2 separate regions of the Homo sapiens genome follow, and region 1 is linked to region 2. The links come from fine-mapping of genetic effects on gene expression. A gene starts in region 2. The other region holds a variant in brackets. All regions are shown on one strand. Distances are between the middles of the regions.

Region 1 (5,377 bases), 39 kb before region 2:
GTGCTCAGTAGGCACGTGGAGGCAGTGGCTCCTGGGTTAGTGTAGATTATAAAACGTTTCCATTATAGCAGAAAGTTCCATTGAACAGCACTGTAAATATTCCTACTCAAAGATGAATGAGTGTGGGGAGGGAATGTCAGGGCACTTAGGAGACAGCTGAGTGGCAATTGACGAAAAATTATTGCAATTTTAACCTCATTTTCATTTCATGATAAAACACTTCCTAAAGCAAACTTTTCAGAGGAAGACTTGAGGTTTCCGGTATTGACACATTCCATTAGAAGGTTGAACCCACAACACTCTCAACTCTTCAGTTGCCTGTCACCTTTAGCACAGGCAGGGATATGGGGTGCCCGTGCTTAGCCAAGGAGTGACTCCTTCCTGCCTTGACTCCTCACGCTGCTGGAAGGTCCCCTGTGGGGAAAGTGCATGATTAGAAACTTTCATAGCAATTTATTTCTTTTGAGTTAGTGGAAAAGAAAGGTCTCATCACTCTTGGTTTGCCACTTGTGATTCTATTAAAGGAAGAAGAAAGAAACTCGTTGATGAAACAGACACCTTTCTAGAAGGTCTACTGCAAGCTTTTCTGTTTTGCTTGGTGGGTTCATAGCAGCAGAGCTTGGACTAAGTGAGGGGAGCCCCAGGCACAGATTTACAGGGCATTCACTGTCAGGTGCCAACCTTGTACTCACATGGGCCAAAGAGGGAGTGTCTCCTTACATTTTGCACCCCGGGTGCCTAGCTTGCCTCACTCCTGTCCCATCCAGGGCTGGCTCTCTTGGGGCCCATTGAGCCTTCACTCTGGTGGGCTGGCTGCATGGTTCTAGGAATTCTGGACTTGCACAGGTATAGCCCCTTTAGCACATACAGGCGCATACTGTGTCTGAGCCTCTGTCACACTGAACCTCTCAGGTAGGGAGTGCATCTCTCTGCTCTTTCTATACCTGGACCAGAGTAGAGGACTAGTAAGTGGCTAATGAATGAATCATTGAACAGATCAGTCCACTAGGGGTCCAGTCAGTGAATTAAAGAGTGAAGAGTTCTCTTAGACTTTAAGATTTCAGAGAACATCCAGTGTTGTAGCCTGCAAAGCTCCGCATTTCTGCACAGCCGGGCTCTGGCTGCACACAGTGACGCGGAGAGTCCTCCCAGCAGCGTGACAATGGATGGGTGCTGTTTCCTCCACTTGCCTTTCCCTAGAATTTCTTTCCTTTCAGCGTCAGGTTTTAGTTACTTTACTAGAAACTCCAGCATCAGGAGTGGTTCTCCTCTCTTCCCTCCTTTCTCCTGCTTCCTCCAGAGTTTCTGCCATGGCCAGACTGTCCTAGGAGCACATGGCTGGGCCTGGGGTAGGCCTTGATTTGGGGAGGCGTGGGGGAAAAGAAGCAATTGCCTGGGGGTGGGAGGCCCCTTTGTGGACTCAGTGTTACATGCTTCTCTCCTCTGCCTCCCACAGAGTGTATTGAAGAAGAGGGACCAAGTTCAAGCAGAGTATGAAGCCAAACTGGAAGCTGTGGCTCTGCGGAAGGAAGACCGCCCCAAGGTCAGGGAAGCCACCTGGGAAGGGCTGCAAAGCTGTAGTCTCCCTGCTGGTGCTAAGTAAATTCTCATCTCTAGATCTGTATGACTAAGAGTGGTCAGTGCCGGCTGGGCTACGTTGATGATGTTGTCCTTTTTCACTCCCTTTTCTGTCCTATTTCTGCGAGTTCCTAGTGTTCACTTGGGATTGAGTTTTCCACTGTTTCCTGGGCCTAATTTTTGGTTTTTTAAAGACTTAACAGCTCTGCCATTCATCGGCAGTTCCTTGCTCCATAAAATGGCATTGCAGAGAGAAGGAAAGAATAGCCTAAATCAGTGCTTTCAAAGTGTGGTTCATAGGCCCACAAACTATACAATCCATGATGAGGAAAGTATAGAAGCACTTGGAAACTTCTATAGGAATTTGATGTTGCTGCAGAACCAGTTGAACACATTGTGTTGAACACTCAAGGCGAGCGTGTTAAACTCGCGTGAGGAGTTGCATGTGGAGCAAGCTGCGTGCTGGTTCTGCACGGCAGGACTACAGCTTGGTCGAATTGGGGGAAAAAAGCCAACAAAAAGTGGCCCTTTACTCCACAGAGTTCGAGCAGCACTAATCTTGCTTGTCTAGGATGCCTTCTGGCTCCAGTGTTTGTAACTGCTCGGTAGGTTCACCT[C/T]ACCTGCTGCCTAGACAGAGCTGATTTATCAGGACAAAGGAATTGTAATGGAGAAAGAGTAATTCGTGCAGAACTAGCTTACTGGACACTGGAGTTTTACTGTTATTCAAATCATTCTCCCTGAGCATTTGGGGATCAGAGTTTTTAAAGATAATTTGGTGGGTAGGGGCTTAGGAAGTGAGGAGTGCTGATTGGTCAGGTAGGAGATGGAATCATAGCGGGTGGAAGTGAGGTTTTCTTGCTGTGTCTTCTGCTCCTGGGTGGGATTGCAGAACTGGTTGAGCCAGATTACCACCTTTTTACATTTGTGGGCTAAATGCAGACTTTTAAAATATATACAAACAAATCATCCTATGTCATCCCTTTAAATCCCTTTGTTGAAAGGAAACTTTTAAAATATACACAAATAAATCATCCTATGTCATCCCTTTAAGTGAGACTGAGACATGGCTCAGCAGATGGCACCATGTTCCAGAAGATCACAGGCCAGCTCGGAACTCGTCAGTGGGGCTGGCCATAGGCAGGCCTCCTCTTACTGGGGAGGTTGAGGTGGGAGGATCCCTTGAGGCCAGGAGTTAGAGGCTGCAGTGTGTTATGATTGCGCCTGTGAATGGCCACTGCACCCCAGCCTGGGCAGCATAGGGAGACCCTATCTTAAAAAAAAAAGGTTTTGGATTTTGGGGCATTTTGGGTTTTCAGACTGGGGACGCCCAACCTGTGTAACAATGATTTACAAGGTATTTATGTTGTATTAGGTATTATAAGTAATCTAGAGATGATTTAAAGTATACAGGAGGCTGTGCATCAGTTATATGTAAACACTACATGATTTTATGTAAGGGACTTGAACATTCACAGATTTTGATATCTCAGAAGTCCTGGAACTGATCCCCACCCCACCCCACCAGATAGCGAGGCGACAACTGTGTGTATGTATATGTGCATGTATGTGTAAAATTTCATTGATTCCATACCACAACCATGAGGTTTAGGTACCATTATTATCCCCATTTGAGAGATGAGCAAACCAAGGCCCACTGTCACACAGCTAGCACTGGTAGAGCTAGGATGGTACCCTGCAGTTTGACTTTAGAATTTTGCTACCTACCATTACATCACTCTGTCTCTTTTTGGTTTGTAAGTGGAACGTGTATTTGTTTTCAAAGAGAGGGGTAAGAGTGAGGAACGTTAGTAAGATAATAGCAGGGACTTGCATTTCAGGGAAATGGTTTGACATCAGAGCTGCTGGGGATTTCCTCCTTTGCCATGGTTCCTGCCGCTGCCGCCATGCCAAGACATACCTGGAAAGGAACCAGCTTTGGAATTTGAAACCCACACCTCAGAAATGACACACCTTGGCTTTTTGTAGTGTCCTTAATGTTAATTGCATCACAGGATCACTGCAGTGGTCATCTGAGGCCCGGGGGAAGGCATTGTTCTTTCCCCGTTTCGTGGGTGAGGAAATGAGGCACAAAGGAGCTGGACAAATTGCCCAGCCTCTTTGATGCCGAGTGGCTCTCCATCCTGTGCATGTTTGTTGTGTTGATTCCAGCAGGATCACCCCTAGTGATCTACACCAGAGCGTAAAGGCTGCATGTATCTATGGAAAGGCAGATGATGAGGATTGGAACTGTAGTCACTGGCCCAGCGTATGCAGCTGGCACCCTCCCTCTGGTTCCTCCTGCCACAGGCTGTCAGCCTTTTTCCATCCTGTGTGTCTGTCACAAGGGAGGCGACAACAGAAATGCAGAGCCATGTGCACACAGCTGCCCTCTGTCTGCCTATGGCCGGCCCCACTGACGAGTTCTGAGCTGGCCTGTGATCTTCTGGAACATGGTGCCATCTACTGAAGCCATGTCTCAGTCTCATTTAAAGGAATGACATAGGATGATTTATTTGTGTATATTTTTAAAGTTTCCTTTCAACAAAGGGATTTAAAGGGATGACATAGGATGATTTATTTGTATATATTTTAAAAGTTTGCATTTAGCCAGCAAATGTAAAGATAGAAGTCATTCACAGAAAACAAATAACTGCATGATTTGACTTATATGTGGAATCTAACAAAGTTGAAGTCATAGAAACAGAGAGTAGAACGGTGGTTGCCGGGACTCAGGATGGGGAAATCGTGGTCAAAAGGTACAAACTTTCAGTTACAAGGTGAACAAAATCCTGGGGCTTCCATGCAAAATGTGGGTGGTGATGGATGTGTTCATTAATTCGATTGTGATCGTCACTACACAGTGTGTACATGTATCAAATCATCACGTCATACGCCTGAAATGTATGTAATTTTATGTGTCAGTTAAATATTTAAGGAAAAATAGAAGTCACTTTTTCTGGCTAGGGAAGGAAGGAGAACCAACAAGTTCTGCCACTGGCCTAGTTTGGAAACCGAGGATCCTGCATTTTAAAGACGTCATGTATGTAGTTCTGTAAATAGCATCTGTACAAGCTCAGCACTGAATACGAGCTTTCTCAGAGGCTGATGCTGTCATTTAATATGTTCATCCCTATACAGGACACATTCCTTTCCAAAGCCAGGAGCTGAAGGTTCGGAATAATAGGCTGAGTTAAGTCTTAACCCTGCCTGGCTTGCTGGCTGCTGGAAGCACACACCAGGCTTGGAGCAGTCTCGAGCAGAGGGAGACGCTGGTTTTGTGCCCTCAGACCCCCACAGCTGCCTGCCAGGGCTCCTGGCCTCACATTCCTGCGGGTCTGGGTGATTCCTGTCCACTCCCCGTGCTGTGGAAATCTTTGGCTGCTGCTGTTGTCCGCCTTCCTGGACACTACTTACCCACATGGCTCATCCTCTCGGCCACAGGAATTCTTACCAGAGGCTAAGGGTTTGCCCCAGTCCGTGAAAATGACTAGTCCGTCCTGAACACACATCTGCGATCTCTTAGCACACTGTGGCTGGGCCATCTTCACCTTCCCTCTTCCTGGTGGGATGTTGAACCATGCCACATTCACTTTGCTGCTTCTTTAGCAATTGTGATTTTTAAAGACAAAATAGACTGTCCTGGTGGTGTGCCAGTGAATGTAATGTAACAGTGGCAGCAGCAGAAATCCTTTGCTGCCTTTGGGTCTGGGGCAGCAGCTGCGTTGGTGGGCAGAGGAGGGTGCAGTTGGCAGCCTGTCCAAGTCCAGCACGGTTGGAGCACAGGATTTAGAATGGGATG
Region 2 (5,377 bases):
ACATGGAGCCAGTGGCTTCTGTATTGGACAGAATGGATAGCAACTATTTCCATCATTCTAGAAAGTTCTATTGGAGCATTCATCTCGAGCTTTCTGCTTATAGTTGTCTGACTTGTGCCCTCAGATGGAAACTTAATGCTGCTTCCTTGGGGAATTTATTACATTGGTTGTGGAAGGCATTTACCGAGTATTTTAATGCATTTTTAAAAAGCCCTTGCTTGACTCCAAATGATTTTAATTAAGGGATCTTTTCAGTAGAATTACTTGAAATTCCACTCCTCCACGTTTTTTTTTTTTTGTTTGTTTGTTTTTTTTTTTTTGAGACAGAGTCTTGCTCTATCACCCAGGCTAGAGTGCAGTGGCACAATCTCGGCTCACTACAACCGCTGCCTCTTGGGTTCAAGTGATTCTTGTGCCTCAGCTTCCTGAGTAGCTAGGACTACAGGTGTGCACCACCACACCTGGCTAATTTTTATGCTTTTGGTAGAGATGAGGTTTTGCTATATTGGCCAGGCTGGTCTTGAACTCCTGGCCTCAAGTGATCCTCCCACCTCCCGCCCAAAGTGCTGGGATTACAGGCGAGAGCCTCTGCGCTCGGCCTTTGAAATTCCATCCCTTTAAAATGGCAAGGGGGTGTGGGGGAAGAAACCCAATTCCATCTCCTCTGTTGAAGGCCATCCTGAAGCCTCCCCTACTGACTCCAGGTACCACTGACCACACCTCCTTGACTGCCCAGAACCATGAACACCACTCTGGTAACATTTCATTCTCAATATAGATAATTAATTAACAATACATTACAGATAAACTCAGGGGCATATAATCTTGTGTCCCTTGTGCCTCCTAGGTAGCAGGTTCAATCCCTGGTGCTGAGCTAGGACACCCAGACCATGGCATCCCTGGTGTCAGCCCCATGATGCAGAGGGCTAGCAATGTCCTGCCTCCTCAAGAATGACAGACTCACCAATATAGAACATGTATGTCTCTTTCACAAAAGCCAAGAGGAGGGCTCCTGACCCAAAGGAGACCATCCCAATCATGATCATGGTGGTGTCCCGAAAGCAGCGGGAGAAGACCAGGACACCCAGGAAGCTGGTGATGAAGATGGTGTACCCTGCAGCCATACCATAGCCCACCTGCACTTGGTTCCAACCGAGAGGCTCCCTCAGCACAAAAAGAGGGATCACGTCCACTGTGCCCACCACCGCCAGGTCATATATGATAGCACCCACAAAGAGCAAGGCAATGGTGGTTTTATGGGGTTTTGCTTTTCCAGGAGATGGAGGGTGCCCCACTGCATACTGTTGGTCCAACTGATCAGGATCCAGAGTGCGGTATGTGCCAACCGTGCCAGACACGGTATCCACGGCGGGGAGCTCCTGGCTGGGTTTGGCCACCGACTCAGGGACCTTTAGCACCAAAAGGCTGTAGAGCAGGGCAAACGAGGCACAGCTCACGCTGCAGGCCGTCAGTATCAGGCCCTGCCCAGAGTGCCCAGCCATCTGCTTGAAGAGATGCCCGGAAGCCATGCTCCCGCAGAACCCCGCCAAGCCCAGCATCAGGTCAATGAGGATGAGGCGCACAGAGCGGCGGCCCTCGGAGGAGCCCAGCGATCCCAGCGCCATGACCCCGGACCAGAAGGCGGAGAAGCCGCCGAATAGCCCGTTCAGCGCCGCCGCCCCGTACAGCACCTCCACTGGCCAGTCCAGCAGCACCTTGAGCAGCAGCCCGAGGCGGGAGAGCAGGAAGCCCAGCAGCGACATGCAGATGGAGATCTTTCGGTGGTAGCGGTCGCTGAGCCATCCCAGCCCGTAGGCGGACAGCAGGGGGGACAGGCCCACCACAAGGTTGTAGATAATGTAGAAATTGGAGATGGCTCTCTGCTGTTGGTCCTCTAGAGCCCCCCGGGGCGATGGGCTGGCACTGTGGTTGGAGGAGCCTCCGGTTCCGTAGGACGCCTTCACCACGAGGAGTAGCCCCGCATCGTAGAGGGAGGCAGCCACCTGGGACGAGGCCACCACGGGCTCAACCCAGGTCCTCGGGTGGAAGCGAGGCAGGTGGCCCCTCCGCGGGCAGGTGACCTCGGGGCTCATGTGACCTCTCTGATGGGGATCGAAGGGCTTTCTGGCTGCAGTGACAAGGATATGCTCCCAAATTCGGCTGCTACGGCTGCTCAGGTTTCAGTCCCGGAGCGCGAGTGTGCTCCGTGCGCCGGGAGCGCGAGTGTGCTCCGTGCGCCGGGAGCGCGCCGGCCAGTGGCGAGCAGAGCCAGGGCACGCAGCGCCTGTGACAGCAGCCCGCCCAGCAGCCGAGTGACCTCCCGAGTGACTCCTCCTCAGGCCAGAAAAGGCCGCGCTCCACCCTGCCCTCGCCACCTCAGGCAGAGTAGGACTGGCGACAGTCCAGGGAAGCCAGGCGCGGGGGAGCGCACCGCGAGTGCTGGCTCCTGGCGCCAGCACCCCCGGGGCCGACGGGTCACGCTGCTCCTGTGAGCGCGGCCGCCTGACGGGGCCGAATTTCCCCACAGCCAGGCGTGCGTGCCCGGACCTCCCGCGGATCTCTGCGGACCCCCCACCACCGGGGCAGGGGCTGGAAGGAAGCTCCCCAGGACTGGCTCAGGGAGCGTTTCCAAATTCTCCCATCCCAGGAAGGCAGGTTTGCGCGAGGGGTGGGACGCCTAGGATTCTGCCTAGGATAAGTATTGGGGTGTGAAGTTTTATTTATAGATTTAATGCAACAGGGGCCCATGTGCTATAGGCAGCTGGGTAGCACTTTGAGAGAAGTAAAAACTTGGGAGCCGCCAGGTCCAGGCTCTTCTCCAAGCCAAAGGCCTCTTAGAGAAGAGTCCTGTTTGGTACACCTGCATTGGTGGGCCTAGTGCCTGGGCCTTGTCTAGAAGGCTCCTGCCCCAAACCCCAGGGCCAAGGGAGAGACGGCAAGATCCTGCCAGCCCTAGATGTCCCCCTAGATGATAAAACTGGACTCTTGGGCAGGGGCTTGAGCCCACTGGAAGGGGCAGAGTCACCAGGGTCCTCATCTGAATCAAGTGCCCAGGTCCCTTTCTGCTTGTTAGTAGTCACTCTTCTTCTGTCTGTGGGCTCACTCCCCTGGGCTGGGCTGAGACCTCCACTTCCCAGGTGGCCTCGCTTCTTGTTTAGGTACATACTTCTGCAAAGAAAACCAGGGTGATGGATGGTGCAGGGGCCAAAATGTACCACAGAGCATGACCTGTTCCATGGTCAGCCCCAGGGATGGAGACTCAAAGCACACAGCCTTCCTGTCCCTCTACCCACAATCCACTATAGCTCTGGCAGCGTGGATGATCAGGAACCCAAAGACATGAAAGGGAGACGCAGGTATGCAGGGAGAGCTTAAAATGCCACATGGATAATATACTCATGTAGGGAGTAGGGACTGGATTCCAAATGATTTAGTGTATCTATGTGCTCTTTTGGTAGTGTTTAGGTGGGCTATAATCTCCTCCCCTGCCACCCTCAACCTCCAGCATGGCCCAGCCTCCTCGTGTCTAGGCCCAGACGACTCTGCCTTCTGCAAAGAGAAAGACACACCTAGTCTTGCCCTTCAAGATGTGCCCCATGGATCTGGCCCAGCAGCCCATTTCCTTCTTCCTCCCCCTCACCTAGGGTCACCTTGGGAGATACATGTTTCACCCAACCCAAGCCTGGCTCTCCCACTCCATTCTTAATTTTTCCAGAGGCTACAGCAAACAGTCCAAACACCTTGATCCTATGAGGGGTGGAGACTCCAGTGAATGAGTAGGTTATGGGGCCAGGTGGTATTCCACAATCAAATATGGCCATGAGAACAACCTGACCCAGATGGACCACTCTGGCCACTTGATCAAGGAGTCTGTGCATTCTAGGGCTCTAGACTGTAGGGGGCAGCCCTTGTCATCTCTGGGAGGGTCTGTGGTATTTCAGTTCTTCCCATTGTCTTGGGAAACCAGGGACATTTGAAGGGTCTCTGAGAGAGTCACATCAGATCTAGAACAGATCTAGTAGGAGCTGGGTTATTAGGATGCTAGTCAGCCCTAGGAACCCCCAGGCTTCTGAGTTCTCTGGCCTGGAAATGAACAAGACTCAGGGTAGTCAGTGTCTCTCCCAGTTTAGGCTACTGTGGGTTGGATTATATTCTCATCATGTCCCCACTTCTTGCTCCATCTCTGAATGCAGGCCCCAGGTGAGCTAGCACCTGGTCATCCTCTGCAGCCCAGGCTACCAGCAAGTAGAGCCCTGACCTTGCCACTTCAAGATAGAATCTAGTCTCCAGTGCAAGGTTGGCTTCATTAAAGTGCAAGTACTAAATCTCTGATGTTTAGATTGATAAAATCACACTATTCCAGAAGAAAGGAACTAAGAAAAAAAACAGTAGCAACTAATATTTTTTGAGCCCTTATTATGTACTAAGCATTTTACGTGAATGAATTTAATCCTCCCGAGAAGTCTGTGAGCTGATCTATCACCCCATTTTTACAGACTGAGATACTGAAACCAGAGAGGTTAGGAAATTTGCACAAGATCACAAGGCCAGTAAATCAGGAAACTAGTATTTGGCATCAGACAGTCTTTGCAAGCCTACAGCTATGGGGAAAATACAGTTGCCAGAAATTTTTATTTGAGGATGTCCTCTTAACCCACATTGGAATGTGGAGAGGAGTAGAAACAACACAATCATGTTGTGATTATTGTTGATCAACAATGTATTGCATAAATAGGAACAAGAGAGTGGATAGATTATCTGTTGAACCTATATCCCAGGCACTTTACACTCAGGCAAGGAATACTTTTGTTTTCTTAACAAAATTCATAGCCCCTAAATTCATCTTAGAAAGGAACAGTCTTTGAAAAACACCTTTGGTCAGTGTTAGAGAGTGAAATTCTCAGGTCTGAGGATTCCAGCTGTGGAGGAGGTTCCAGAGAGGGGGCGGAACCTTTATGCTTGAGTCAACGAGAGGGAAGGGTGAGAGAGAGAACCAAGGAGGGAGAAGAGAGGGGAAAGAAGTTCAGGGAGGAAGTAAGATCAGCAGGTATTGGTGAGAAGGGTCAGGACTAGAACTCTTGGCGTCAGGGTGGTCTGAAGGAACTTTTGAAGAATAAGAATGTCTAGTGTGGATTTTAAACATCTTACTGTATCATGTACATGTGAATCCTTAGTGTGACCTCCCTTTGCTCCTCAGTTCTTAATTTCTTTTTCTTTCTTTTTTTCTTTTCTTTCTTTTTTTTTTTTAGACAGGGTCTTGCTTCTGTTGCTCAGGCTGGAGTGCAGTGTTGCGATCAAAGCTCACTAGAACCTCAAATTCCCGGGCTCAGCCAATCCTCCTGCTCCAGCCTCCCAAGTAATTGGGGCTACAGGCATG

The links. PIP is the estimated chance that this variant, and not a neighbour inherited with it, causes the effect.
Region 1: its variant is the best candidate, but not a certain one, in a credible set for the expression of SLC46A2 in cerebellum (GTEx, PIP 0.88).

What each region holds. Positions count from the first base shown.
Region 1 is chr9:112,849,403-112,854,779 of GRCh38, forward strand. SNX30 (sorting nexin family member 30) reads left to right here. Exons shown (of 9, transcript NM_001012994.2): 7 at 1,457-1,543. Among named protein-coding and RNA genes, the nearest start is that of SLC46A2, 39 kb to the right of the region's middle. The variant C/T (reference allele first, on the strand shown) is at 2,196.
Region 2 is chr9:112,888,589-112,893,965 of GRCh38, forward strand. It overlaps SLC46A2 (solute carrier family 46 member 2), which reads right to left and starts at 2,288. Exons shown (of 4, transcript NM_033051.4): 1 at 965-2,288. The coding sequence starts at 2,093.